Linked DNA regions of Homo sapiens. The protein of the gene in region 3 interacts with the protein of the main gene of each other region in a biochemical or structural test. Each region holds a gene or a part of one and is shown on either strand. Other genes may lie near its edges.

Region 1 (8,785 bases), on a different chromosome or scaffold from region 3:
TTGGCCAGGCATGGTGGCTCGCACCTGTAATCCCAGCACTTTGAAAGGCTAAGGCAGGTGAATCACCTGAGCTCAGGAGTTCAAGACCAGCCTGGCCAACATGGCGAAACTCCGTCTCTACTAAAAATACAAAAATTAGCCGGGCATGGTGGCACGCACCTGTAACCCCAGCTACTTGGGAGGCCAAGGCAGGAGAACCACTTGAACCCAGGAGGTGGAGGTTGCAGTGGGCCAAGATTGGCCACTGCACTCCAGCCTGGGTGACAGAGCAAGACTCTGTCTCAAAAAAGAAAGAGTTGGTTCTGTTAAACAATATTTATTTCTCATAATAACCCTATGAAAGCAGATACAGACTTCTGGCTTTTTAGGATTGGTATTTCACTTGTTGAACACCTACCCTTGTGTCAGATGTATAGCAGGTTAACAAAGTCAATACAGTGATACACTTGACATAATCTTTGTTCTGAGTTTTTTTCCCAATTATAGTAAAATTGGAGGTCTTAACTGTTCTACATTAGATAAATATATGCATTTGTTTTAAAGAGCTAAGCAATGAGAATCTTACAACTAGAGCTGAAGTTCAAGAAATAAATGTCCAATGATTAAATTTTTTCCACTGCTGTTCACATCATGATTTGTTGTGATTAATGTATGTGGATGAGGACATAATAGAAAAAGAAAATGATGAGACTTGTATATATTGTGTTTCTGCACAATGAGTTCCTTTGAATGTTTTTCGTTTTAGGAATAAAATTGAAGGGTGTTTTTCTTAGAGAACATCATTTGTCATATTTATTTGATCAAGAAGTTGAAGATTTATATAATAAGGTATGGGACTTACACATTTATTTTGATAAAAGAACACAGAAAAGGTCAGGTATGAGCAGAAAATTGACATTTATTTCAGCCTAATGTGGATACTGTACTCTGAATTAAAAATTTCTTTTCCTTACTCTTCCAGCTTTTAAAGATAAGTATTATTTCAAAATAGTATTTTTTTAATTAATAGATTCAATTCAGGAAAGGCATTGGAGGGGGTGGAGCTTTTAACTTTGACAGTCTCACTCTGTTGCCCAGGCTGGAGTGCAGCGGCGCAATCTCTGCTCACTGCAATCTCTGCCTCCTGGGTTCAAATAGTTATTGTGGCCCAGCTTCCCAAGTGGCTGGGATTAGAGGCGCATGCCACCACACCCAGCTAATTTTTTTTATTAAGTAGAGACCATGTTTTGCCATGTTGGCCAGACTGGTCTCAAACTTCCAGCCACCAACCTCAGCCTCCCAAAGTGCTGGGATTATAGTCATAAGCCACCACACCTGGCTGTTGGTTATCTTTTCTTAGAAATAATGATATAATCTTTTCAGCACCTGATATTCTTAAAGATCCAGGGTTTACAAATGACTGTTAGATATGCCAAGGATGACTAGCCTATAACTTAAGGATCTGTTCAGGAACAGTAGAAAAGAAGGTGATAGGAAACTGGGAATCTTAAATCTAATACTAGTTCTGTCATGAATTAGGCTTGTTATTGTAGTTGTTTCTCAAATTTAAGAAAATATGAGGGGTCTTGAAAAAGTGCATGGAAAATGCATATCATGAAAAAACTATGCATGGATTTCAAAATTTTTGGACCAAAATAAACTCCTACTAACTTGTTATAACATGTCTGAACAGGATCTAGTTTGAAGCACTAAGAAGAATAAGACATCAGTTTGAAAAGAGGCTCTATCAGAACAACACGAATTCTGCTAAAATTGAAGCAAGAACAAACATCAAATATATGTTGACACTTGGGTGGAAGAATGGTGAACTAATTGATGCTTTATGAAAAGTTGATAGGGACAGTGCTCCAAAGAAATCAGTTTACAAATGGATAACTCGTTTTAAGAAGGCATAAGGTAATGTTGAAGAAGAAGCCCACAGTGGCAGATCATCCACATCAGTTTGTGAGAAAAAAGTTAGTTCATGGCGTAATTGAAGAAAACCAACAATTAACAGCAGAAACAACAGCCAACACCATAGACATCTCAGTTGGTTCACCTTACACAATTTTGACTGGAAAAGTTCAGCAAACTTTATACCTGATAGGTACCAAAACCATTGCACCCAGATCAGCTACAGACAAGAATAGAGCTTTCAATGGAAATTTTAAATAAGTGGGATCAGGATCTTGAAGCCTTTCATTGAAAAATTGTAACAGGAGATGAAACATGGCTTTACCAGCGCAATCCTGAAGACAAAACACAAAGCAGTGGTTACCAAGATAAGTAGTTCAGTTAAAGCACAAGAGGACTGGTTGAGAGCAAAGGTCATGGCAACAGCTTTTGAATGCTCAAGGCATTTTGCTTGTTGACTTTCTGTAGGGCCAAAGAATGGTAACGTGCTTATCATGGGAGTGTTTTGAGAAACTTAGCCAAAGCTTCAGCAGAAAAATCCCCGAGAAAGACCAGAGAGTTCTTCACCACAACAATGTTCCTGCTCATCCCTCTCATCAAACAAGGCCATTTTGCAAGAGTTTTGATGGGAAATCACTAGGCATCCACCCTACAGTCCTGGTTTGGCACCTTCTGACTTTTTGTTTCCTAATCTTAAAAAAATTTTTCAGGGCAGTACATTTTTCTCAAGTTAATGTATAAAGAAACTGCATTGATGTAGATAAATTCCCAGAACTCTCAGTTCTTTAGGGATGGACTAAATAGCTGGTATCATCACTTACAAAAGTGTCTTGAATGCTATAGAGCTAATGTTCAAAAATATAGTTTATATTTTTTATCTTTTAACCATTTTTCCACAAACTTTTTGAAGTCTCCTTGAATATGTACCATTTATAAAGGGGAAAAATTCTGTGACTACTCATGTTGACTTAATGCTGACTTAATTTTCTGTTTTGTAAATATATACAAACAAGTTGATACAAATTTTGTTTATAGCCCTTAAACAAATTTGTGAAATAAATGCATTCAGAAACAAACTAAAACAATGAAATGGATGCTACTGTTTTACTGAGGTGTAAGCATAGTACTGGCTGCTATGGAAAAAGTTACATAAACATTCATGTATCTTGTGATGATTGTTTTGTCTACAACTTCACTCTTTGCAGACATCAAGACTGTTGAAATGAGGGGAAGGGATCTGAATTCCCAAAAGAATGTCAAATGGGCATGGAGGCTCATGCCTATAATCCTTGCACTTTGGGTGGCTAAAGCAGAAGGATCCCTGGAGGCCAGGAGTTCCAGACCAGTATGGGCAACAAAATGAGTCCCTGTGTCTACAGAAAATAAAATAATTAACCAGGCATGGTGTTGTGTGCCTGTAGTCCTAGCTACTTGGGAGGCTGAGGTGGGAGGATCACTTGCGCCCTGGATGTTGAAGCTGCAGCGCGCTGTGATCATTGCCACCACACTCCAGCCTGGGCAACACAGCAAAAACCTGTCTCTAAAAAAACCTAGAATATCTTTGTGCTATGCAAATCCTAATTTGAAAAATTTGTCATTAAATTCTCTCCAAACATTCTTCTAGTGAGCAATTCAGTTTTTATTTGATTCAGGATTAGGCTTGGATAGTAGTTAACTAAATTGGATTTAGTTTTGTGAACTAAAGAGTTTTTCTTTTTTTAGATACAGGCAGTCTTTGCACAGTTCCAATATGCATAAATACCAGTGACCACAGTTAAATAAAACCAGTCCAACAATGTGGTTAATAATTCCATTACCACAGTACTGAGAAAACTTGCATAAATTTTGCTGCTAGCTCTTTAGTCCACAAATCATTGTGCCCCCCCCCCCAAAAAAAAGATGTGCATCATGATCAGTCGCCAGTTACATTACTTTGCTTTCAAAGTTTGTTGATTTGTTACTGATCATCTGTTTAGTTCATGCACAGATAGCAGAGCACAAAGTGCATAGTACTGTTGCCTCCTTGACCCCAGAGATTAAACTTGTGACCATTTATAAAAATGGATAATTAAAAGAGGTAATTGGTCAACAAAGGACAGAGCAGCAAAGAAAAGTGATAATGCTGGAAGTGAAATTGGATGTGATTAGATTTGAAAGTGGTGACAGCAAAGCAAAGATAGGTTGAGACCCAGACCTGCATGAAGCTGTAATACAAGCCTATTGAAAAAGTCTGATAAATGTAAAAAGGTAAAGTTGCTTCAACGTCTTTCAGTTTTAATTGCACTAGGAACAGAAAGCTGCTTGCGGTTGAAATGGAGCATTTACTTGTTTGAATTGAAGACTAATCAAAAACAAATCCCAATCAGTTTGACTAGCATTCAGGCCAAAGTGATAACCTTAGTTACTGCGTTGAAAGAAAATGGTAATTAGAAGACTGAAAGAGAATATATTACTACCAGTAAAAGTTGGGTTCATTATTTCAGAAGTTGGCGTGAATTGATGTTAAGCTGTCTTATGAAGCTGCAAGCTTCAGATGGAATGTTACAGAAGATGTAGCTGACTGTGGGAATGTTAACACTGCTGCTGTTCAAGGGGCAGGATCCTTCTGCTTTAGCTACCCAAAGTGCAAGAGTTGGCTTTGAATGCTAGATGTAATGAGAAAAGAACTTGTCTAGAAGTTAGGAGATCTGGGTTGAATCCAATTTCTGGTAATTTAGCAAGTGATTTTCCTTTGGCTTCACCTTGCTGTAAAATAATTCCTCCCTAAACTAAAAGTACACTTAGGCAACGCATCTAATTAGATTTGAGGTTGTGGAGAAACAGTGGCAGAAGGTGAGTGCTACCGGGTCTCAATACCATGGGATAGTAACAAGTATGAAACGGTACTAATTGGAATTAATATAACACCCCATCTATACCTCTTTGTCCACAATAGCCTTTGGGAATGCCCAGATTGTTTCACTTTGTATAAGTTCTCAAAACGCCAGAATGTGCAATCAAGTGGGTAATTTTAAGAACTCAGTCACAAATTACAATAAAGCCCTTGCAGCCCGATTTTCCACCTGGTTTGGCGCGGGCAGTGTCGCCAGGGGCTGCCGACGCCTCACAGGACTAGTGCTACGTGGCGTTCCTGCGGGCCACGGCGGTTATTCGGCCAGACGGGGACACCCTCTGCACTAGTCCTTTACCCACTAGTCCTGGCTACCCCATCCACATTCTGCGCGCCGCCCCTCAGAAAAGGGTTTCTACGATCGCCGGGGCGCGATGACCGCAGAGCGCCACCAACCAGCGGAGCCGTACCCCGCCTCCCAGGCTACCGCCGGTCCCGGAAGTGCCGTGGCGGGCTGTGCGTCGGGTGGGCGGGGAAAGATGTCGCTCCCGGAAGTGTTGGGCGCAGGGCGTGGCTGCGGCTGCGGCTGCCACGTTGGAACGGAACGTGGAGGTGGCCCTGGCCGGGGAGGAGGGGCGGCGGCGAATGCTGGGAGAGTCCGACGAGCGCTGCACTAACGCAGGATCCGGCTGCCGAAGGTCCTCGCCAGGTGCGTCCGCCCGTTGCTTTTTGTCCTCTTCGCCGGTCCTTAAGCTTTGAGGTAGAGCCCAGGCCAAAACTGGGACCGCAGCCTGGGTCTCCGCTGCCCCGCACCAGCCTGAGGCCCGGTCTCTGGTGACGGCGCGCCCCTAGTCTTGGTTTCGGGCCCGGCGGAACAACGCCTGGCATCTGGACTCCAGTGATCGCGCCCGTCCGCATTCGCCGACGTCTCCACTGCTGAGCAAAAGCCACCCGAGGCTGGCGACAGTGTCTTGCCGGGGAGTAGTAGCCGGGCTGGTAACTGGAGTTTGAGATTAGGAGACTTTCAGACCCTTGTGCACAAAGAGGTGCGGTCCCCGAGGGTGAGGAGAGGAAAAAAAATCTCAGGATTACTTTGGCTTTGGTTAGGATTTTTTTTTGTACTTGAACTATTGCCAGATTTAAAGGTTCATAGGTTTGAACTGACGTCTACTGTCATTTAACTAGGATTATTTTAAGGACGGTGGTAGCCAGGCGCAGCCTGTACTTTGAGGGCAGTCTCATTAAGTGTTACATGTTTTTGCTAATAAGTTGTTAAATTACGGGGCTGTTGTAAAATAAACCAAAATATTGCCTGGACTTGTGGGCATTATAAATTTTTTCTTGCGCTTAAGGAATTAATTTTACGTAGGGCTATTTGAAGTTGCAGTGATCTGATAGTCTGTGACAAATCCTTTCTCCTAACTTATTTTTTCTAACTATAGAAAACTGAAATTTGGTTGTCTTTGTGGGCAGTTATAACTGTATTTAATCGATAAGGGTGTGTTCTTGTTACAGCGTCCTGCGTTTTCTGTACCTCCGTTTATTCAAGAGTTGGCAAAAGCTTACTCTCCTTTTTTTTTTTTTTTTTTTTTTTTGAGACGGAGTCTCGCTCTGTCACCCAGGCTGGAGTGCAGTGGCGCGATCTCAGCTCACTGCAACCTCCGTCTCAGCCTCCTGAGTAGCTGGGATTACAGGCGCCCACCACCACACCTGTCTAATTTTTGTATTTTTAGTAGAGACGGGGTTTCACGCTGTTGGTCAGGCTGGTCTGGCACTCCTGACCTCAAGTGATCCGCCCGAGTTGGCCTCCCGAAGTGCTGGGGTTACAGGCATAAGCCACCACGCCCAGCCTACTCTCCTTTTTTAGTGGTTCTTCTGTGCTCCTTGTTTCTCACTATCCCTTAATTAACAGCTCAGGGAGAGGTTTGTAGACTCTTAAGAACTTTTGGATAACTCGTAGTGTTTTTGTAGTTTTGTAGTGATTTTATCTTAAATACGTCCGCGGTTATTTGTGAAATTTGAAATTTGAGGTGGATTTATAATGATATTGCTTAATTTTATATAAGCAAATTCTTTATTGAAACCAATAACATGGGAATAGAAATAAATTTGTAAACTGTGAAGAGCAATGATTCAAAATTTTGGGGGGATTTCACTGTCTTACGGGAATCTAATGAAAGCATTGGAAGAATGCACATATACACACATGTAGGATTTTCTTTTTTTTTCTTTTACTTTTTTTTTTTTTTTGAGACAGGGTCCCTCTTTGTTGCCCAGATTGGAGTGCAGTGGTGCAGTCATAGCTCACTATAACCTTGAACTTTTGGGCTCAAGAGATCCTCCCGCCTCAGCCTCAGAAGTAGCTAGGAATATGCACGTGGCGCACGCCCAACTAATCTTATTTTTTATAGAGATGGGGGTCTCACTGCGTTCCCCAGGCTGGACTCAAGCTCCTGCTTTCAAGTGACATGTAGGATTTTCTATATACATAATATTATGAAGTTTACAAGTTAAAAACTCCTGTAAGGGGATATTACTAGATTGATTTACATTGATTACATTGTTGTTAGGAATGTCATTAGGTTAATTTCAGCTCAAAAAGTTTTATTATACTGAAGATTAGTATGACACCAATTAGTTCAGTAACCAGTGCACAGTTGCTTTCTCCTTTGATTTGGTTTGGGTTGAGTGAAATGAACCTAGAACATTGAAAATACTAAATAAATCCTCTAAACAATTGTTTCTATCCATATTGAGATATTTTGCCTGCAGAAAATGGATTTTTACTGAAAGCAGTGCCAACTAGGGATTGTATACCTGGTTTGGGAATCCAAGTTCCAATTCTATTACCTCTTTAACTTTTTACTTGCTTTCTGAGTTATGGATCAGCTCTGTATATAGCATTGCAAGGTTGGTATTTTTCAAAGAACAGTGCTGGTGGGTTTTAGTATTGCTTCACAAAATTTACACTTTGAAAATGAGCAGAAATAAAAAAGTTTCCACCTAATTGAATGCAATTATTGAGAGAAAGTTGCATGAAAAATAAAGAGTTCTAGTCTAGAATATAAATTTTCCTCAAGAAATTTTTTTTTTTTTTTATTTTTTTCTGAGGCAGAGCCTCGCTCTGTCACCCAGGCTGGAGTACATTGGCGCGATCTCGGCTCACTGCAAACTCCGTCACCTGGGTTCAAGCGATTCTCCTCCCTCAGTCTCCCGAGTAGCGGGGACTACTGGCCGCGCCATCACGCGCAGCTAATTTTTGTATTTTTAGTAGAGACAGGGTTTCACCAGGTTGGCCAGGATGATCTGGATGTCTTGACCTCGTGATCCGCCCGCCTCGGCCTTCCAAAGTGCTGGGATTACAGGTGTGAGCCACTGCGCCTGGCCGTGTCTGTGTGTATATATATATATGTTTTTTGTGTGTTTTTTTTTTTTTTTTTTTTTTTGAGACGGAGTCTCGCTCTGTCTCCCAGGCTTACTGCAACCTCTGCCTCCCGGGTTCAAGCGATTCTTCTGCCTCGGCCTCCTGAGTAGCTGGGATTACAGGTACACACCACCACGCCCGGCTAGTTTTTGTATTTTTTAGTGGAGACGGGGTTTCGCCATGTTGGCCAGGCTGGTCCCGAACTTCCGGCCTCAAGTGATCTGCCCACCTCGGCCTCCCAAAGTGCTGGGATTACAGGCATGAGCCACTGCGCCTGGCTAATAGATGTTTTTTTTGTTGTTGTTTGTTTGTTTGTTTGTTTGTTTTGAGACAGAGTCTTGCTCTGTCACCCAGGCTGGAGTGCAGTCGCATGATCTCAGCTTACTGCAAGCTCTGCCTCCCGGGTTCACGCCATTCTCCTGCCTCAGCCTCCCGAGTAGCTGGGACTACAGGCGCCCGCCACTGCGCCCGGCTAATTTTTTGTATTTTTAGTAGAGACGGGGTTTCACCGTGGTCTCGATCTCCTGACCTCGTGATCCGCCCGCCTCGACCTCCCAAAGTGCTGGGATTACAGGCGTGAGCCACCGCGCCCGGCCTAATAGATGTATTTTTGAAGTTTCGTGGTGGTAGACGTTTTA
Region 2 (8,373 bases), on a different chromosome or scaffold from region 3:
ATCAATTCATGAGTGCCTTCCTAAGACATCTTGACCCATCCTTTTCTCAGCCCCTGAGAAAAGGATTCCTTCCTCATATGACTGTCAGAAAGACTGCTCACCCTCCTGCAAGACTCTTCACCTACCAAAAGAGATTAATCTTTAAAGGCCTTTAATCATAAAATGACCATATCATACATTAGCAAAAGGTGGTTACTTCCTGTTGGGAAAGTGCTATCAGAGAAGGGGGGGAGGAGGCTGGGCACAGTGGCTCACGCCTGTAATCTCAACACTTTGGGAGGCCGAGGCGGGCAGATCACTTGAGGGCAGGAGTTCAAGACCAGCCTGGCCAACATGGTGAAACCTCCATCTCTATTAAAAATACAAAAAATTAGCCAGGTGTGGTGGTGCGCACCTGTAGTCCTAGCTACTCGGGAGGCTGAGGCAGGAAAATCACTTGAACCCGGGAGGCGGGGTTGCAGTAAGCCAAGATCAGGCCACTTCATTCCAGCCTGAGAGACAGATTCGTCTCAAAAAAAAAAAAAAAGAAAAAGAAAAAAGAAAAGGTGGGAAGGAGAGGATAGTGTCAACACCTTTACAGAGAAAGCTCCTATCTGAAGGTCCTTGTCTTTTCTTCAGGGACTATGACTATTTTAAATAAAAGAGGATTAAAGCTTCTTGTATATTTGTAGCACTATACTTATCGTACTAAATTACAGGTCTTATGTCTCTCTGTTTCCTCCATTAGATTGAGAGTTCCTTGAAGGCAGGAACTCACAGTCTATTTACTCATTTTGTGTCCATAGATTAACACAATGCTTGACACACAGTAATTATTCAATGTATGCCTGCTGAATGAAGAGTGAACAAAGGAATGACCAAAAAAAAAAAAGGGTAACAAAAATCTGACTGAATCAAAGAGAACAAGTGAAAAAGACAATGACAATGTAAAGTAACATTTCCTGTAGACATCTCAAGTCAAATAATGACTTGCTTTGTGTATGCGTGTGTGTCTGTGGGCGTATATACACACATATATATACATATATATATATATGTATACATATATATATATATTTTTTTTCGAGACGGAGTCTTGCTCTGTCGCCAGGCTGGAGGGCAGTGGCGAGATATTGGCTCACTGCAACCTCCGCCTCCCGGGTTCAAGTGATTCTCCTGCCTCAGCCTCCCCAGTAGCAGGGACTACAGGCACGCGCCACCATGCCTGGCTAATTTTTTGTATTTTGGTAGAAACGGGGTTTCACCATGTTGGTCAGGCTGGTCTCAAACTCCCGACCTCCAGTGATTTACCCGCCTCGGCCTCCCAAAGTGCTGGGATTACAGGCGTGAGCCGCTGCGCCTGACCCTTGCTTTGTATTAACGATTTGAAATGAAAAGTTTTAAGATATTAAAAACGTAATATATAATTTTTCTTCTATGATATACGTGCAAGTCCAATTTGAGCTCTTTAGTATTTCATTCTACTTTTTCTAATTCCATTCTCTTGTCCAGAAGTTACAGGAGGGCCTCAAATTCATTCTTTCACCCTTAAAATGCCTTTGGGGTTCTGAATTCAGTCATGCTTAAGCTAATATGTAACTACTTGAAGCTCTGGCTTATGGCACTGGCCATAAAATAATCTAGACACAGTTTTTTTGTTTGTTTGTTTTTTTAATCTCAACAGCAGTGCCTCCTTTACAACTGTAGGACTAAACTGTGATCCACTAAACCAATGCTGGGGCCTCGGGAGCCAGGCAGGGAAAGGTTTAGAACAGAACAGACAGAGCAACTCTGCCTACTTGTACCAGAGAATTTTTCCATCAGAAAACAATGAACTTTCAAGAAAAATTTATATTGAAGAAAAGAATTCACGGTTTTTAAGTTTTAAAATCATTTGTCTAATTCTATTTTGCGCCTTCTGTTTTATTTCATTAGAACAGAATCAAAGTGTTCATAATAGCAATTTTTTAAAAGTACAGGTTGCACAAAGGTTGTATGATTCAAACAAAAGAATACTGCAATGAGGCGTTCCAAAAGGAAACAGTGAGCCTTAAGAGTGATGTTTCCCAGATTTACGCCAGTCACCTGTATTCATCCACCAAAAAAAAAGTTTAATGAAGTAAGGAACATACATATTTGAACTATTTACATATATTATTTGACTCAAACATGTTTTTTAAAATGGCTTAGGGGATTACACAACGTATCAGAATAGGGCACTTTCTACAGTCTCCTAATAACCAAATGTTAACTATGAAACAGGGGAATTACTGCTGAGATGTGCAGTATTCTTCTGAGTCTCCCCGCCCCAACCCCATTTCCAAGTTCTAAAAATTTACCTAGGGTTCTGTTAACTACTGCTACAAAAACAAACAAAAAACAAACCTGTAGTCCCAGCTACTCGGGAAGGGGAAACGGAGGTGGAGGCTGAGGTGGGAGGAATTCTAGTCGCACCTGGGCAACATAGTGAGACCCAGACTTTCGAGAATACATACATATATTTCTCAGTTTGTTTTAGTGTTACTCAAATTTCCTAAATAATTTCGTATATATCTTATCCATGTTTTTCTCATTCTATAGTCACTGAGAGACCAGCGCTTTATGACTGCAACATGTAAAATACTTGTTGTTCTGGAGTGTTTTGAGACTGGAGATTTCCTTTTCATACTCTAAAACCGAACATCTCCTAGCACCCGCGCAATCTTTGCAATCCGGGGATGAAGAGCAACACCTTTACAATTGTAATAAATCTTAAAGCTACCCTATCAGGGATTGAATGCATGAGTAATATAAATAATGGGGAAGTAAGTTCTTCCTATTCAATGCGGTTGTCTAGGTGTCAAGTGTCTAGTGTTGGGCTTCTCTAGACAGCAGGGTCTCCACTGCTGCATCATCTTCAGAAAACGATGGGGCAAAGACGGAGGTAACCAGCTGTCGAACGAGCAGGAAGTTTTTAATCACCAACTCCACAACTACTTAATCAGTCCAGTCTCCAGCGAGCCCTAGGCTCTTCCCAAATCCTACGCTTGGCAAGGAGAACGGCCCTTTGAGGGTCCCCAAACTCAGGCGGCAGGAAGCACTCCCCAGACCGCTAGCGACGCGCCGAGGTTGCCCCAGAAAAATCCCAACGTCGAAGGAGCGGGCGGCACCGCCCCTCCCCTCCCTTCGCTTTGCTTCCTAGTCCCCGGAGTCGCTACCGCCCACTTTCTAGCCGGACAAACAGCAGTCCAGGGCCAGGCACACAGCAGTCCAGGACCGGGCACAGCACTCACCCACGTCTTGCTCGAAGGGGTTGGCGGTGAACAAAGGCATCTCGCCGGCGCCCGAGCCCTAGTCGCTGCTGTCTAGCTGACACTCAGCAACTGCTACCCGCCGGGTGACCCGCGGCCGCGGCTCCCTAGACCGCTCCGCTTCGGCCTCCGTCCCTGCACTTCCGCCACCGCACCTGCCCGGCTCTTGCCTGACAGGCCGGCTCGGAGTCCACCCTTCGATCCCGCGCTCCTGTCCCAACTTTTCTCCCGGGGCGAGATCCCTCCGACCATGGGCGTCCTCCCAAGGCCTTTGTCGCTGCCCCTGTCCCAGACTTTTGTAGGGGTCAGGCGGCCGCTACGGCCACCTTTCCAGCGCTAGGACCCCGGCTAGCCACGAAGCCGGGGACCTTCGGAGCCGGAAGTAGTCCCGCCTGGAACTGGACGACCCCGGAAGCTGCAGTGCCAGCGGCGGCGCGGCAGGGGGCGCGGTTACCCGTGGTTTTTCGCGTTGGACGACGGGCTCTGAGGGCCAAGTTCTTGTCACGAATTTAGTTTGTTTCAGAGCGGCAGGACTCGTAGCTAGAGAACGAGGACCCACGACGCGTACGCGTTACAGTCCTGTTTCCCTAGAAACGGAGCTGCCGGCGCGGAGGTGGCTTTGAGATTCTGCGAAAGACCTGACTGCTCTTCAACAATTATTGTGTTGCACCCTCCCAGGCGCCCAGTCCAAACCCCGTCAGAATAACCACCCGGGACAGCGGTGGTCGAAGTAACTACGCCTAACTTTTCGCTTTCCATCGTGTCCCCTCCATAAAAACACTGCTGGGCCCCCGGAATCCAAAGGCGAAGGAGGCACACTCCCTGCCTTAGACTTGTTGAGAGTTTTATAGGGGCAGTGCATAACGTACATGATGGTGTATGACGATTCGGATGGTAGTACGAGTCATAAACTCAAATTCCAACAGCATCCAGCCAGGTATTTAAATGAATGCAAAAGCCCAAGCACCCTTCCCACCCACATATTCTCTGTTCCTCTTAGAAAACTGTAGTAATGATTATGTTGCCTGTCTCTCCTCCTCATTAGATTATAAACTCCCTGATAAGTTTTGGTCACTACTATATCCCCAGCGTCTAAAACAGTGTCCCAAGTAATAGACGCTCAATGCTTTTCGAATGAAGCTGTAACTTTCTAACTGAACAGTGCGTATCTAAAGATGTCAACTACTGGTAAATTGCAGCCATTTATTGAAATGTGGGTCCTACTAGAGTTTGCAATTTTTCAATGATGTTTAAATGTTGAGAATTACTCCAACATTTTAAATAATAGATTAATCAAAACCATTTTACAAACTCTAGTATAAAGACCTGATGCTATAGAGAGCTCATACACATTCAGAAAGGTGGTTGCATTTTATAAAGTTCGGGGCACAAATGAGAAGGAATCGTGCAGAAGGGGCTGTTTTTCATAGAACGTTGAACCTAGGGATGTTCAAGATAAATTGGGAGGCCGGGCATGGTGGCTCACGCATGTAATCCCAGCACTTTGGGAGGCCAAGGCGGGCAGACTGCTTGAGGCCAGGAGTTCAAGACCAGACTGGCTAACATGGCGAAAAACCGTCTCTACTAAAAATACAAAAATTAGCCAGGCATGGTGGCGCAAGCCTGTAATGCCAACTTCTTGGGAGGCTGAGGCACGAGAATCACTTGAGCCCAGGAGGCAGAGGTTACAGTGAGCCAAGATCAGGCAACTGCACTCCAGCCTGGGCAACAGAGCAAGACTCTGTCTCGAAAAAAGAAAAAAAAAAAAGACTTAGAGATTTTTTGGACAGATAAAGACTTTTTGTCTAAGACTTAGTGTTGGAATGGAAAACAAGGCTGACTAGGTATAAGAGGAAACAGATTGACAAGAATTTTAAAGGGCAAGCTGGGAATTTTTTATTTTGATTAAGGCACTCAATAATTATTTAAGGATATTGGGTAGCAGAATAGTAAAAAAAAATTTTTTTTGAGATGGAGTCTCACTCTGTTACCCAGACTGGAGTGCAGTGGCGCGATTTGGGCTCACTGCAAGCTCCGCCTCCTGGGTTCACACCATTCTCCTGCCTCAGGAGAATGGCCAAAACTGGCCATAGACAAAATCTCTGCAGCACTGTGACATGTTCGTGATGGCCATAATGCCCACGCTGGAAGGTTGTGGGTTTACTGGAATGAGGGCAAGGAACCCCTGGCCCTTCCAGGGTGGAAAACCACTTAAAGGCCTTCTTATGCCACAAACAATAGCATGAGTGATCTGTGCCTTAAGGACATGCTCCTGCTGCAGTTAACTAGCCCAACCTATTCCTTTAATTCGGCGCATCCCTTCGTTTCCCTTAAGGGATACTTTTAGTTAATTTAATATCTGTAGAAACAATGCTAATGACTGGCTTGCTGTTAATAAATACGTGGGTAAATCTCTCTTCGGGGCTCTCAGCTCTGAAGGCTGTGAGACCCCTGATTTCCCACTTCACACCTCTATATTTCTATGTGTGTGTCTTTAATTCCTCTAGCGCCGCTAGGTTAGGCTCTCCCCGACCGAGCTGGTCTCGGCAGCCCTTGTTGAAGGAATACTTATGGCAATGGTGATCACCGCTATGGTAGCTACCATTAAATTACTCGTTGTGATTGGTTGTCCCGCTTTCCTCAGGTTTTCTTCTGCCATCTGTGACAGCTTCTTGGTCTGTCCCCAGGTGGGTGGCTGTGTTTGATGGGTATAGCTCACGACAGTTGGGGTCCTTCTCAGTGTCAGTCTCAACATGGCTGCAACCGGGGGGGGGGGTCCTTGGGATCCTCCCAGAATCTCTTCCTTGGCATCTGGCTAATGATAAGGTTTCAGGTGTCTTGATGGTATCCAAATCGGCTGTTGATTTTGGCCTGGAGAAATACAGCATAACCTCTACCCCAAGTTATTATTTTACCTATTTCCCAACTTTTTGTTACCGGATCTCTCCACCAAATCAGTTGTTCTGCTTCTGTCTTTGCATCTGGTTTCTGTAGATGCTGTTCAGCTGCTGATAACATCTGGCCTTCTTTGGGCAGGCTCAAAACATTTAAAGTTAATAATGCTAGATTCAATTGTGTATGGGCTGTCCCATAATCCCTATTTCTCCCCCTTTTTTGTTTTTGTCATTAGTTGTTTATCTGTATGAAATAGTAACAGCATTTTTAATTAATTGTGTGGAATGAACCACGTATGAAGCAGCAGAAATGACATTAATAGGCATATTAAAAGCAGTCCATACCTCAATTACAGCTACAAGCTCCGCTTTTTAAGCTGAAGTATAGGGCGTCTGGAAAACTTTACCTTTTGATCCAGAATAAGAAGCTTTGCCATTACTAGACCCATCTGTGAAACAAGGAAAACACTTAGCAGGCTGCAGGTTGTTTACTGCAGGAATTGTAAATGCAAACTGTTCACAGTCTTGCTCAGCTAAAGGGATAGTAAAGAAATAGTCTTTTAAATCTATGACTATTAGAGGCCAATTTTTTGGAATTATAGCAGGAGAAGGCAATCCTGGCTGTAATGCTCCCTTAGGTTGTATAACTGAATTGATGGCCCTTAAGTCAGTTAACATTCTCCATTTACCTGATTTTTTCTTAATTACAAAAACTGGAGAATTCCAAGGGGAAAATGTTAGAGCTATGTGCCCATTTTCTAATTGTGTAGTAACTAATTTCTCTAAAGCCTCCAGTTTCTCTTTACTTAGCGGCCATTGTTCTATCCAAATTGGCTTATCTGTTAACCATTTTAAAGGTATAGGTTCTGGAGGCTTAACAATGGCCATCAAAAATGATATCCTAATCTTTGGCAGGAATTTTGTCTTTCTGCTTGAAGCAGTTCTTGCAAACCTTGCAAATTTTTTTTTTCTAGTCCCATACCAGGGACATACCCCATTTCATGCATTGTATGTTGACTTCGAGGGCTATATAATTGTTCTGGAATTAGAACTTGTGCTCCCCATTGTTGTAACAAATCTCTTCCCCATAAATTTATAGGTGCAGAAGTTATAATTGGTTGAATAGTCCCAGGTTGTCCATCAGGCCCTTCACAATGCAAAATATAACTACTTTGATATACTTCAGGGGCTTTACCAACTCCAACTATGTTAAATTGAGCGGGTTGAATTGGCCACACAGACGGCCACTGCTGTAGAGAAATGATTGAAATGTCCGCTTCTGTATCTACCAAACCTTTAAATTTCTTTCCCTGAATAGTTATTTCACAGGTAGGACATTTATCAGTAATTTGATTTACCCAATAAGCTGCTTTGCCTTGTTTATTTGTGCTTCCAAATCCTCCTGTTCGTTTAATTTCACTTTTTCCCATTCCCACATACGGCACGATCAGGAGCTGTGCTATGCACTCTCCTGGCTCTGCTTTCCAGGGAACAGAAGTAAATATAACAATTTGAATTTCCCCATTGTAATCTGAATCAGTGACTCCTGTATGTATTTGTACCCCTTTTAAACTTAAATTAGACCTTCCTAAAAGTAATCCTATTGTCCCCATTGGCAAAGATCCACAGACTCCTGTTGGAACCTTTTGCAGGGATTCCCCAGGCAGAAGGCTCACAGCTTTTGTGCAGCATAAGTCTACCGTGGCACTACCAGCTGTGGCAGGGGACAGACATTGTACAGGGGTGAGGGAATGGCCTGAGCCATTCTGGAATCCCCTATATGGCAGCCTGACTCGCTGATTATTTCTATATCCTTTTTTAGTATTAATAGCTTGTTTAAATTTTTTTAGTAATTTAAAAGGAAAAGGCTCAAATGTAGCTATAATATTTCCCTGTTGATCTGGGGGGTGTATTCTAACAGCAAAATGCCAAGCCTCTAAATCAACCTCTTGTGTAGCTTGCTAAATTCCTGCTTGAATAGAACTGAGAGCAGTCGCTTAAGGCACTTCTCGAACAGTCACTGGGGCAACTACTTTTCGCCCAGTGTCTTCCAGGAAAGAAAGATCTGGAGGGTCATTTTCTTCAAAATAATAGGGAGGGGATGCAGAAGGGTGGGGATGAACCTCTCCCTGCTTTGCCGCTTTAGCTTTAGGTGGCAAACAAACCTGCTCTGTAACCTCTTCTGTTATTTCGTTATACTCTCCTTCCTC
Region 3 (4,785 bases):
TTGAATATGAATCTATGAATATGAGTGATGGAATTTTAAATTTTCTTACATATAATTCTGCTATTGTGGGTATGTAGAAGAATGTGGTTAAGGGATTATTTTGATCTATGAAGTGTCACGATACAAGATTTAAATCAGCAAAAAGTTAGATATACGTGTGTATAGATGTGCACATATATATGTATAGAGAGTGAAAGTAATAAAAGTGTATACACTGCTAAATGTTAATAACTGAATCTAGCTGAAATGTACACCAATGTACACCAATGTTTTGTTTTTTGGTTTTTTTTTTAGAGATGGAGTCTCGCTCTGTCTCCCAGGCTGGAGTGCAGTGGCGCTATCTCGGCTCACTGCAAGCTCCGCCTCCTGGGTTCACGCCATTCTCCTGCCTCAGCCTCCTGAGTAGCTGGGACTACAGGCGCCCGCCACCATGCCCGGCTAATTTTTTTTGTATTTTTAGTAGAGACGGGGTTTCACCGTGTTAGCCAGGATGGTCTCGATCTCCTGACCTCGTGATCCGCCTGCCTTGGCCTCCCAAAGTGCTGGGATTACAGGCGTCAGCCACCGTGCCCGGCCGATGTACACCAATGTTCTCTGTACAATTCTTTCAGATTTTCTGAATGTTTGCAAAGTTTTATTTTAAAAACTGGAGAGAGAGCACTTGAAAAGATGCTCAACATCATTAGTCATTAGGAAAATGCAACTCAAAACCATGACATACCAGTTCATACCTACTTTGTATGGGATAGAATAAAAAATGAGAGGCAGTAACAAGTTCGGTTGAGGATGTGGGGAAACTGGAACCTTAGTTCCAGTTGCTGGTGGGAACGTAAAATGCTGCTGCCACTTTGGAAAACAATTTGGCAGTTCCTCAAAAAATTAACCAGAGTTACCATATGACCCAGAAATTTCACACTTAGGTATATACCCAACAGAAATGAAAACATGTTTACAGAAAATCCTGTACATAAATGTTCATAGCAGCATTACTGATGACAGCCAAAAGTGGAAACAAGCCAAATGTCCATCACTGGATGGATTAAGGAAATGTGGTATATCCTATACAATGGAATATTATTTGGCAATAAAAAGGAATGAAGTACAGATACATGCTATGACATGAATGAAACTTGAAAACATTATGCTGAATAAAAGAAAATAAAAACAGAAGGTCATATATTCTATGATTCTGTTTATTAAAATACCCAGAATAGGCCAGGCACTGTGGCTCACGCCTGTAATCCCAGCACCTGGGGGAGCCGAGGCAGGTGGATCACTTGACGTCTGGAGTTTGAGACCAGCCTGGGCAATATAGCAAAACCCCATCTCAACCAAAATACACAAAAATTATTGGGGCATGGTGGTGCACACCTGTGGTCCCAGCTACTCGAGGGAGGGAGGAGGGAAGATCACTTGAGCCAGGGAGGTTGAGGCTGCAGTGAGCTGAGATTGCACCATTGCACTCCAGCCTGAGCAAGAGTGAGATATTGTCTCAAAAAATAAAATAAATAAAATTTTAAAAATACGCAGAATAGGCACATCTATAGAAATATATAAAGTAGAGGCCAGGAGAAGTGGTTCATGCCTGTAATCCGAGCACTTTGGGAGGCCAAGGTGGGTGCGCCACTTGAGGTCAGGAGTTCAAGACCAGCCTGGTCAACATGGTGAAACCCCACCTCTACTAAAAATACAAAAATACACCTGTAGTCCCAGCTACTCGGGAGGCTGAGTTACGAGAATCCCTTGAACCTGGGAGGCGGAAGTTGCAGTGAGCTGAAATCATGCCACTGCACTCCAGCCTGGGCAACAGAGCAAGACTCTGTTAAAAAAAAAAAAAATAGCGAGAGATCGAGAGAGAGTGCACGTGAGAAGACTAGTAGTTGCTATGGACTGGGGGAGAAGGAACGGGTTACAGGGTTTCTTTTGGGGATAACGAAAATGTTCTAAAACTGGACTGTGGTGATAACTGCACAACTCTGTGAATGTACTAAAAACTACTGAACTGGCCAGGCACAGTGGCTCACACCTGTAATCCCAGCACTTTGGGAGGCCCTGAGATGGGCAGATCACTTGAGGTCAGGAGTTCCAGACCAGTCTGGCCAACATGGTGAAACCACATCTCTACTAAAAATATTTTTAAAAATTAGCCAGGCATGGTGGTGCACCTGTAATCCCAGCTACTTGGGAGGCTGGGGCATGAGAATCATTTGAAACCAGGGGGTGGAGGTTGCAGTGAGCCGAGATCACACCACCGCACTCCAGCCTGGGCGACAGAGCCAGACTCTGTCTCAAAAACAAACAAAACAAAAACAACAAAAAACACAACTGAACACATTTAAGGTGAATTCTGTGGTATGTGAACTATCTCTAAGAACTTCTTTTTATTTAAGTTGGGAAACAAAAAGATCATGTACAACAAACCAAAAACAAAAAAGTTATTTCTAACCCATGTAACATATAACAAGGATCTAGAACATGTAAATGACTCTTTCCAATCAATAAGAAGAAAAATAACCCAGTTTGTAAAAAATGTGCAAAAGACAAATATTTCATACAATAGGAAAAACTAAAATGAGATAATTTTGTATCCATTAGATGGCAAAAATTAAGAAGTCTGATGATCCTGGTAGGGGTATGTATTGGTATAATCACTTGTAGAAAGTTAAATATGCACATACTTTATGATCTAAGTGACCTCACTCCTAAGTATATACATGAGAGAAACTCTTATGCACATATATATGCAGGAATGTCTGCATAATGTTGTTCATGCCAGCAAAAATTTGGAAACAATGAAATATCAATAGGAAAATGGATAATTTATGATATATTCACACAATATACATCATAGGCTAGTGAAATTATAACCACATGCAACAATATGGATATATCTTTAAAATATTTAATGAAAAAGTATGCTTGGCGCGGTAGCTCACACCTGTAATCCCAGCACTTTGGGAGGATGAGGGAGGTGGATCACCTGAGGTCATGAGTTCGAGACAAGAGCGAAACTGTCTAAAAAAAAAAAAAAAAAAAAGAGTGAAGAATCAAGCCACAGAAGGTAATTTAAAAATGTACACTCAAGATTTAAAAAGAACTACAATTCCATAAGAAAAAGGCAGGCCACAGAATAGGAAAAAGAATAAAAGACTTGTTTAGGCATTTCACAAAAGAAAGTATACAAATTTAAGTAGTTATTTAAACCACAATGCCATTCTACTATATGGGCAACCAGAAGGGCCAAAACAAAACGAACAAAAGACTACCAAGTGTTAACAAGGATTTAAGGCAACTGAAACTTCCAGTCATTGCTGGTGGGGGTATGAATTGGTACAGTCGCTTTGGAAAGCTACTGAGCAGTATGTACTAAAGCCAGACATATGCGTATTTCTGAACCAGGAGTTTCACTCCTAGGTATGTACTCAAAAGAACTGTGTACACTATGTTCACCAAAAAACAAGAATGTTTATAGCAACCCTCTTTGCATTAGTCAAAAGCTAGTAATTACCCAAAAGTTCCTGAATGGTAGAATGAATTACTAAATTGTAGTATTTTCATACAATGGAATACTATACAGCAATGAGAATGAATAAATTACAATATAAACAACAATATGGATGAACATTACATAATTTTGAATGAAAGGAGCCAGACACAAAAAAAGGATATACTGTACAATTCCATTTATACGAAGCATAAAATCAGGCAAAAATCTATAAATCTGTCCTGCCAGAAGTCAGTGGTTTTCCAGACTCGAAGGCAGGTACAAGCACAGTTAGGGTGCTGGTAACATTCTGTTTAAACTCTGTTCTGCTGGTTACATGGGTATGTTCACTTGAAAATCCATCAAGTTTTATCCTCATGGTTTGTGTACTTTTCTGTATATATGTTTCACTTCAATAAAGTTTATTTTTGGTCAAGGGCAGTGTCTCATACCTGTATTCCCAGCACTTTGAGAGGCCGAGGCAGCCCGACTGCTTAAGCCCAGGAGTTCCACAGCAGCCTGAGGAACATGGAGAAACCCTTCTCTACAATTTTTTTTCTTTTTGAGATGGGAGTCTCGCTGTGTCACCAGGCTGGAGTGCAGCGGCGCGATCTCGGCTCACTGCAACCTCCGCCTCCTGGGTTCAAGTGATTCTTCCTCAGCCTCCCAAGTAGCTGGGATTACAGGCGCATGCCACCACACCCAGCTAATTTTTTTTATTTTTAGTAGAGATGGGGTTTCACCATGTTGGCCAGGATGGTCTCCATCTCCTGACTTCGTGATCTGCTTGCCTCAGCCTCCCAAAGTGCTGGGATTACAGGCGTGAGCCACCACCCCTGGCCTACAAATTTTTTTAAAAAATTAGCTGGGCATGATGGCACTTGCCTGTCGTCCCAACCACTCAGGAGGCTGAGATGCGAGAATCACTTGAGCTCAGGTGGTGGAGGTTGCAATGAGCCGAGATTGTGCACCACTACTTCAGCCTGGGAAAAAGAGAGAGACACAGTCTAAAAAAAAAAAAAAAAAAAAGTATTTTTTAAAAAACATGAAGAAATAGAAATCTTGACTAGACCTATAATAGCTAAAACAGCCTGAGTCAGTATTTTAAAATCTACCCACCAAGAAAAACGAAATTCCAAGACCAGATGGTTTTCCTGTTCAATTCTACCAGATTTTCAAGAAACAGATTTTTATTTTATACAATCTGTGCCAGAGAAAAGAGTGACAAACTCACTTTATGAGGCTTGTGTTTTGTTGTTGTTGTTGTTGTTTTTGAGACGGAGTCTTGCTCTGTCGCCCAG
Region 4 (8,408 bases), on a different chromosome or scaffold from region 3:
ACCGCAACCTCGGCCTCCCGGGTTCAAGTGATTCTCCTGCCTCCGCCTCCCAAGTAGCTGGGATTACAGGCACCCACCACCCCCGGCTAATTTTGTATTTTTACTACAGACGGGGTTTCTCCATGTTGGTCAGGCTGGTCTCGAACTTCTGACTTCAGGTGATCCACCCGCCTTGGCCTCCCAAAGTACTGGGATTACAGGCATGAGCCACCGCACCTGGCCTCTTTTTTTTTTTTTTGGAGACAAGAGTCTCGCTCTGTTGCCCAGGCTGTAGTGTAATGCCATAATCCTGGTTCACTACAACCTTCACCTCCCGGGTTCAAGTGATTCTTCCACCTCAACCTCCTCAGTAGCTATGCCCGGATAATTTTTTTATTTTTGTAGAGACAGGGTTTCACCATGTTGGCCAGGCTGGTCTTGAACTCCCGACCTCAGGTGATCCACCCGCCTCGACCTCCCAAGGTGCTGGGATTACAGGCGTGAGCCACCCCGCCCGGCCTTTCTTCCCCACTTTCTTGTACTATTTCATATACGGGACAGTAAGAGCTGTTTGAGAAATGCTAAGAAATAATGGACTTGCTTAATATGGTTTCAAAGGAGGTAAAAACGATTCGAATAGACTACTGGCTTGTTAAAGTGATGAGATGCTAGATTTAATCTTCAACTCCCAGCCCCAAACTTAAATATTTCCTGTGACCCAAAATTGTCATTTTCCTGAACACAGGTTAGCTCTTCCTCCCGTACTGTTAAATAATCCATATAAATTGATTCCAACGCCCCAGGATAGAATTAAATGAGGATACAAAGAAGTTTAGGCACTAATTCAACACAGCAAGCAAAATAAAATAAGCCTGCTGCAGTAACAGAGAGATAAAAGGGCAGCTGGAAACCCAGCATTTGGGTACAAGTACCCAACAAAGAAATCCTGCCAATACACTGTCTTACCTTCTTCCACCCCCGACACCTGCTAAGTTCTGTTTGGTGACCAGAACTCCGGGAAAACTTTGCCACCAGAAACAAAAAAATACCGCACTCAATAAAGGAATGGACACAGGTAGAGGACACAGGTAGAAATTCCTGGTTTCTGTCTCCTCCTCCTCCTCTCCTTTCCACTGAGTCCCTACCTTATGCCCCAAGTCACAGCAATAGCTCCTCACCTTGTAGATCCTATTTCCTTACCCCTTTAGATCCTGAAGGGGACACCTAACATTAACAACTGTAATAATGTGGCTGTATCAGAGTCCCATGTTCAATAACCAATAAGGGCTCTGGTCAGAAATCCTCACCACTCACATCAAAAATATAATTATCACTAACCTGTACTTTATTTGGAAACTACAATCACAAGCTTTCAAATCAGTTTTTTAAAGGAGCTTTCAAAAAGAAAAAGACCTTTCCTCACATCCTTTCTAGTTATCACAGCAAGTTTACTTAAAAAGCCCCAATACCCACAAAATAGAAAGCATTCAAGTACAATTTGTTTCCTCCCAAGAACACTAACAGATTAAGAGGGGAACATCTGGAGATGAGGGGGCGGAGGAGGAGACTTCCAATACAAGCACATTCATATCTCTTTGATTTTTAAACACTGAAATAAAGACAAAGCAGACCTTGAGCTGTACTTCCCCATCTTATCCCCCCCCCCAACAGGAACCTTGTTGAATACAAATAGCAATTTAAGAATTTACAAGACGAAATTTAGTTCACTATATTTCCTAAATATGAGTTCTAGAGGCCTTGTCTTATTTTCAAATCCCTGAATCTTATTTCTGATGATAAGGGGGACTAACCCTGAGGTTATTCACATGACTAAATCCGCATTTCGAGGAAAGCAAGGGCCCTAACATTTTGAAATATAGGTATTTTAATTAGGAAAAAAATCTAAGAATCAAAGATACTTGATTCCAACCATGTCTCACCCCACCCTACCACGCAAAAGCATTAAAACCACAGGACCCACAGACATGACCTTTCGTTTAATACTACAGTATCGCACAATTATAAATGTGTGGGTATTTCAAAAGGTGGTCCAAAAGGTGGACTGGGAGAGAGGATTAAGAATAAACTTCCTGACAATGACTGGACAGACACAATGGACATTCGATGAAGTTCTGAAAAAGGACTGGAGAACCCATTAGGGGCAAAAGAACAACGAACAAAGAGGACCTACTAATATTTCTACATAAACCCATTTATTTAAAACGGAAAAAAAGAAAGCAACAGGATCTTCAACCTTCATAACTCAAAAAACCCAGCCTCAGCCGAGCGCCTGGAATAGGTTAAGATCCCCCACGAAGTACAGACCAGCATTCCGAGCCTGCAGAGTCAACCAAAATACAGTTACTGAACACTATTGGAAATAACTTTATTTCAACAGGTCTTCCCATTTGTCATCACGGTGCGCACAAACTGTAAAGTCATCGTTTTTACAAACGGGGGGACGGAGGCTCGGGCTCTACAAAGGCTCGAACTCTCAGAGTCGTGGCCTCCTGGTTCTATCCATCAGAACCCACGGGTGATGGAGCCAGAGAAAGGTTACAGGAACTTCGAGATCTCCTGTTTTAAGTCTGAGGAAAGGGAGGGAGTGAGGATTTTCTGGGCCTCCCCAGAAGACGACGAGGAGGAAAAGCCCCGAAACCCCTCACTACGAGGTGCCGGCCTACGGGAAAGAAACCCGATCGCAGCATGGGAGCCTGCCACCGCCCGAAGACGAACTGCAGTGATTCCCACTCACCCCTCTCCCCCCACCATCATCCACGACTGTCCCCCACCTCAGGCCTGAGGAAGCCCATCGCTCTCAAAGGTCCTCCTTTGTGAGACTCCACGGCCGCCGCCCCACACGGGGCCTCCGGGGAAAAGCCACCGCCCCCACCCGCCATATTTCCCTGAAAGGCGCCCGCGCTACAGCTCCCGGTCTTCGCTCTCTCCCATGTGGCGGGTGCTGCTTCCCCCGTCACCCCACCCAATTGTTCTCCACATCCCAAGGCCGTCCCAGAAGCTCCCATGAGGGTGGCTCGTTCGGAGACAGCACCCGCCATCTCCTCCCCCTCCCCCGCCCCGGGACTCGCCCTCCCCCCAGCCGCCATTTTACAACCAACTCCTCCACCCCGTCGCCCCGGCCTCCCGGCCCGCGAGTTGTTTGCAGTTAAGGACGGCGAAGGGGTCACATTCCAGGGCATAGAGCCTCCCATCGCCCCGGGAGCTCCCAGGCCATTTCCTGCTTCCCGAACCCAAGCCCCCGGGCCAGGCTCGCAGACGATGCCGCCATTTTGTCTCCTGTTCCCGGCCTCTGTGGGCGGCGGCAGAGGGTCCGAGAATTCCAGCCCCCCGTTGCCCCCCCAACTCACCGTCGTATCGCTCAGCCTGCTCGGCCAGCTTCGCCTGGTACACCAGATCCTCTCGATCATCCATAGCGGCAGCGGCTCCGGCAGGGTCTGCGCGACGGATGGAAGCGGATAGTGTCTCCGACTCTCTCAGCCTCTCGCTCCGCGTCCGGGCAGCAAAAATGGCGGCGCCTCAATCCGGGACTTCCGCCTGCGCACGCGGACAACTGCTCAGCTCTATGGCAACCGCTCCCTGGCAACTGGCGCGGGGGGCGGGTCCTGGAACTCGGCGCCCGAAGCGGCTGGAACGAGCGCACGAGACGCCTCTCCTCTGTCGGCTCAGCGGGCGCCGGAGCCCAGAGGCGGGAACTGCGACTGCCGAAAGGGAGCGGCCCCCGGGGAACGAGAAGGGCTGAGGCGGGGCCGGCCGGGACTGCTCCTGAAAAAAGCCAGCGAGAGACCTGGGTCAGACCGGGGCCCGAGGCCCGACCTGCGGAAAAGAACGACGGAGGCTGTAACGGTTTCTGTCATGGCAGGTCTTCTTTCCCGAAATCTGAGGCTGTCACTACCGCGCCCTGGTTTTCTTTTCTTTTTTCTTTTTTCTTTTTTCTTTTTGAGACGGAGTTTCCCTCTTGTTCCCCAGGCTGGAGTGCAGTGGTGCGATCTCGGGTTACCACAACGTCCGCCTTCCCGGGTTCAAGTGATTCTGCTGCCTCAGCCTCTCGAGTAGCTGGGATTTCAGGCCCCCGCCACCACCCCCAGCTTTTGTATTTTTAATAGAGATGGGGTTTCACCATGTTGGCCAGGCTGGTCTCGAACTCCCGACCTCAGATGATCCGCCCCCCCTCGGCCTCCCAAAGCGCTGGGATTCCAGGGGTGAGCCACCGCGCCCAGCCCACGTCCTAGTTTTCTCGGCCAAGCCTGGTCATGGGCCTTTTTCAGACACTTTTAGACTCAGGGTAACGAACCGGGCCCTGGCCGGGCGCGGCGGCTCATGCCTGTCATCCCAGCACTTTGGGAGGCCAAGGCGGGAGGATCACAAGGTCAGGAGTTCGAGACCAGCCTGGCCAATATAGTGAAACCCCGTCTCTACTAAAAATACAAAAAATTAGCTTGGCATGGTGGTGCATGCCTGTCATCCCAGCTACTCAGGAGGCTGAGGCAGGAGAATCTCTTGAACCCGGGAGGCGGAGGTTACAGTGAGCCGAGATCCTCCCATTGCACTCCAGCCCAGGCGACAGTGTGAGACTGTGTTTCAAAAGAAAAATTATATATATATACAAAAATTAGCTGGGCGTGGTGGTGCATGCCTGTAATCCCAGCTACTCCAGAGGCTGAGGCAGGAGAATCGCTTGAACCCGGGAGTGGGAGGGTGCAGTGAACCGAGAGCACACCATTGCACTCCAGCCTGGGCAACAAGAGCACAACTCTGTCTCAAAACAAAGAAAAAGAAAAAAAACGAACTGGGCCCTGTTACAGTTGTCAGGGACAGGGGAGCTCCAGTTTTCACGCCTCAACTTTCCCCTCACACTGATCTTTGTCTTCTCCTGTTTAACCTTTTTCCCTCCCTAGGCCCACTATGAATAGGAGCAGGGAATTTGTTAGATGAGGGTGGTGTGGAGTACATGGTACAGAAGAGTTGGACCAAGATCAAATAAAGATTGTGGAGGCAGGAATAACTCAGTGAACATTGCTTCAGCTTCTGGCGCTTGGGAGGCCCATGCGGAAGGATGACTTGAGCCCAGCCTGGGCAACATAGCGAGACTCCATGTCTATAAAAACGTTTTTTTTTTTTTTTATTTGAGTCGGCATCTCGCTCTGTTGCCCAGGCTGGAGTGCAGTGTCGTGATCTCGGCTCACTGCAACCTCCACCTCCCGGGTTGAAGCAATTCTCCTGCTTCAGCCTCCCAAGTAGCTGAGACTACGGGCACATGCCACCACACCCGGCCAATTTTTTGTATTTTTAATAGAGACGGGGTTTCACCATGTTAGCCAGGGTGGCCTCGATCTCCTGACCTCGTGATCTGCCCACCTCGGCCTCCCAAAGTGCTGGGATGACAGGCCTGAGCCATATCTTAGCAGTTTCAGAGGCTGAAGCAGGAGGATCTCCTGAGTCCAGGAGGTTGAGGCTGCAGTGAACTGTGATTGCACCAGTGGACTCCAGCCTGGGTAACAGAGCGAGACCCTGTCTCAAAAAATAAAGTGGGGAGAGGGAGGGATCTTGCCACGTTGCACAGACTGGCCTTAAACTGAGTTCAAGCAATCCCACCTTGGCCTCCCAAGTAGTTGGGAAACTACAGGCTTGCACCAACGCACCCAATCTTGCATCCTATTTTGTGGCCAAGGGAGCTGTATGATTTTGCGTGGAGGATGATGTCATCATAGTTATATTTCAGAAATATTAACAAATATTCCATAGCAATGATTAAAGAGGAGGATAACCAAACGTAATACGTGGGAGCAATGAAAATAGAAAGGAAAGGATAAATAGGAATAGCACTATAGAGGGAAGCCACAAGCAGCTGATCAGATTGCAGCTCTTTTTTTTTTTTTTACCATTACATATATAACATTTTATTATAATTTAAGGTATAGTCGATAATATAATGTTTTTTTTGTGTTTTTTTTGTTTTTTTTTTTAAATTGATCATTCTTGGGTGTTTCTCGCAGAGGGGGATTTGGCAGGGTCATAGGACAATAGTGGAGGGAAGGTCAGCAGATAAACATGTGAACAAGGGTCTCTGGTTTTCCTAGGCAGAGGACCCTGAGGCCTTCCGCAGTGTTTGTGTCCCTGGGTACTTGAGATTAGGGAGTGGTGATGACTCTTAACGAGCATGCTGCCTTCAAGCATCTGTTTAACAAAGCACATCTTGCACCGCCCTTAATCCATTTAACCCTGAGTGGACACAGCACATGTTTCAGAGAGCACAGGGTTGGGGGTAAGGTCACAGATCAACAGGATCCCAAGGCAGAAGAAGTTTTCTTAGTACAGAACAAAATGAGAAGTCTCCCATGTCTACCTCTTTCTACACAGACACGGCAAGCATCCAACCTCTCAATCTTTTCCCCACCTTTCCCCCCTTTCTATTCCACAAAACCGCCATTGTCATCATGGCCCGTTCTCAATGAGCTGCTGGGCACACCTCCCAGACGGGGTGGCGGCCGGGCAGAGGGGCTCCTCACTTCCCAGTAGGGGCGGCCGGGCAGATGCGCCCCTCACCTCCCGGACGGGGCGGCTGGCCGGGCGGGGGGCTGACCCCCCCACCTCCCTCCCGGACGGGGTGGCTGCCGGGCGGAGACGCTCCTCACTTCCCAGATGGGGTGGCTGCCGGGCGGAGGGGCTCCTCACTTCTCTGACGGGGCGGCTGCCGGGTGGAGGGGCTCCTCACTTCTCAGACGGGGCGGCCGGGCAGAGACGCTCCTCACCTCCCAGACGATGGGCGGCCGGGCAGAGACGCTCCTCACTTCCTAGATGGGATGGCGGCCGGGCAGAGACGCTCCTCATTTTCCAGACTGGGCAGCCAGGCAGAGGGGCTCCTCACATCCCAGACGATGGGCGGCCAGGCAGAGACGCTCCTCACTTCCCAGACAGGGTGGCAGCCGGGCAGAGGCTGCAATCTCGGCACTTTGAGGGGCCAAGGCAGGCGGCTGGGAGGTGGAGGTTGTAGCGAGCCGAGATCACGCCACTGCACTCCAGCCTGGGCACCACTGAGCACTGAGTGAACCAGACTCCGTCTGCAATCCCGGCACCTCGGGAGGCCGAGGCTGGCAGATCACTCGCGGTTAGGAGCTGGAGACCAGCCCGGCCAACACAGCGAAACCCCGTCTCCACCAAAAAAATACGAAAACCAGTCAGGCATGGCAGCGCGCGCCTGCAATCGCAGGCACTCGGCAGGCTGAGGCAGGAGAATCAGGCAGGGAGGTTGCAGTGAGCCGAGATGGCAGCAGTACAGTCCAGCTTCGGCTCGGCATCAGAGGGAGACCGTGGAAAGAGAGGGAGAGGGAGACTGTGGGGAGAGGGAGAGGGAGAGGGAGAGGGCTTTTTTTTTTTTTTTAATTTTGAGACAGTCTCGCTCTGTCGCCCAGGCTGGAGTGCAATGTCACAATCTCGGCTCACCACAACTTCTGTCTCCCAGGTTCGAGCGATTCTCCTGTCTCAGCCCCCCAAGTAGCTGGGATTACAGGTGTGCCCCACCATGCCCAGCTAATTTTTGTATTTTTAGTAGAGACAGGGTTTCACCGTATTAGCCAGGCTGGTCTTGAACTCCGACCTCAGGTGATCCTCCCACCTCAGCCTCCCAAAGTGCTGGGATTACCAGCGTGAGCCACCGCACCTGGCCCAGATTGAAGATCTTATAATAAAAATTGACTTTCCATCTTTCCACCCTGAGAATATTAACAAAAAATGGGAATGCTAGGAACACTTGCTGATGGAATGCAGAGAAAGACAAAGTTCTTTTAGCACATGTTGGTTCAGAGGATCAGGGATCCGCAGGTACCCAAGGATCACCCAGGTAAAAATGACCACGAAGGAGTTGTAAAAGGGGACACGCATTCCAAATAGAAGGGAAGCTGTTGGCCGGGCACAGTGGCTCACGCCTGTAATCCCAGCACTTTGGGAGGCCAAGGCGGGCAGATAATGAGGTCAGGAGTTTGAGACCAGCCTGACCAAAATGGTGAAACCCTGTGTCTACCAAAAATACAAAAAGTAGCTGGGCATGGTGGCACGCGGCTGTAATCCCAGCTACTGAGGAGGCTGAGGCCGGAGAATCACTTGAACCTGGGAGGCGGAAGTTGTGGTGAGCTGAGATTGCGCCACTGCACCTCAGCCTGGGTGACAGAGTGAGACTCCATATCAAAAAAAAAAAAAAGAATAAAAGGAGGTGTCAGTCGTATTAAATTCTGCAGAGACATAAGTCAGATTAGCACTGAGGGAAAGCCATTGGATATAGCGATTAGGTCATTAGTGACCTTCAAAAGGAGTTTCGAAATGGTGTTGGAAGCCAGATTGCATTTGGTTGAAGCTCAGGGAAGTCGAGAAAGTGGAACTGGTAAGCATAGGGGTCTCCTGAGAGGAGCAGTGAA

What was found.
Region 1: the proteins of USP8 (region 3) and SEC31A form a complex in vitro, tested with the Homo sapiens proteins (one study listed by BioGRID).
Region 2: the proteins of USP8 (region 3) and STAM2 form a complex in vitro, tested with the Homo sapiens proteins (3 studies listed by BioGRID, with this or other methods).
Region 4: the proteins of USP8 (region 3) and YWHAE form a complex in vitro, tested with the Homo sapiens proteins (2 studies listed by BioGRID).

Annotation. Positions count from the first base shown.
Region 1 is NC_000004.12:82,887,735-82,896,519, reverse strand, and holds the start of SEC31A (protein transport protein Sec31A), read left to right. Parts: upstream 1-5,366; 5' UTR 5,367-5,368; coding exon of another isoform or gene 5,369-5,432; intron 5,433-5,454; exon of another isoform or gene 5,455-5,825; intron 5,826-8,785. UniProt on the Homo sapiens protein: Component of the coat protein complex II (COPII) which promotes the formation of transport vesicles from the endoplasmic reticulum (ER).
Region 2 is NC_000002.12:152,172,352-152,180,724, forward strand, and holds the start of STAM2 (signal transducing adapter molecule 2), read right to left. Parts: upstream 3,413-8,373; 5' UTR 3,292-3,412; coding exon 3,252-3,291; exon of another isoform or gene 3,182-3,251; intron 1-3,181.
Region 3 is NC_000015.10:50,510,502-50,515,286, forward strand, and holds the end of USP8 (ubiquitin carboxyl-terminal hydrolase 8), read left to right. Parts: 3' UTR 1-3,920; downstream 3,921-4,785. UniProt on the Homo sapiens protein: Hydrolase that can remove conjugated ubiquitin from proteins and therefore plays an important regulatory role at the level of protein turnover by preventing degradation. Converts both 'Lys-48' an 'Lys-63'-linked ubiquitin chains.
Region 4 is NC_000017.11:1,396,700-1,405,107, forward strand, and holds the start of YWHAE (14-3-3 protein epsilon), read right to left. Parts: upstream 3,524-8,408; 5' UTR 3,412-3,523; coding exon 3,348-3,411; intron 1-3,347. UniProt on the Homo sapiens protein: Adapter protein implicated in the regulation of a large spectrum of both general and specialized signaling pathways. Binds to a large number of partners, usually by recognition of a phosphoserine or phosphothreonine motif.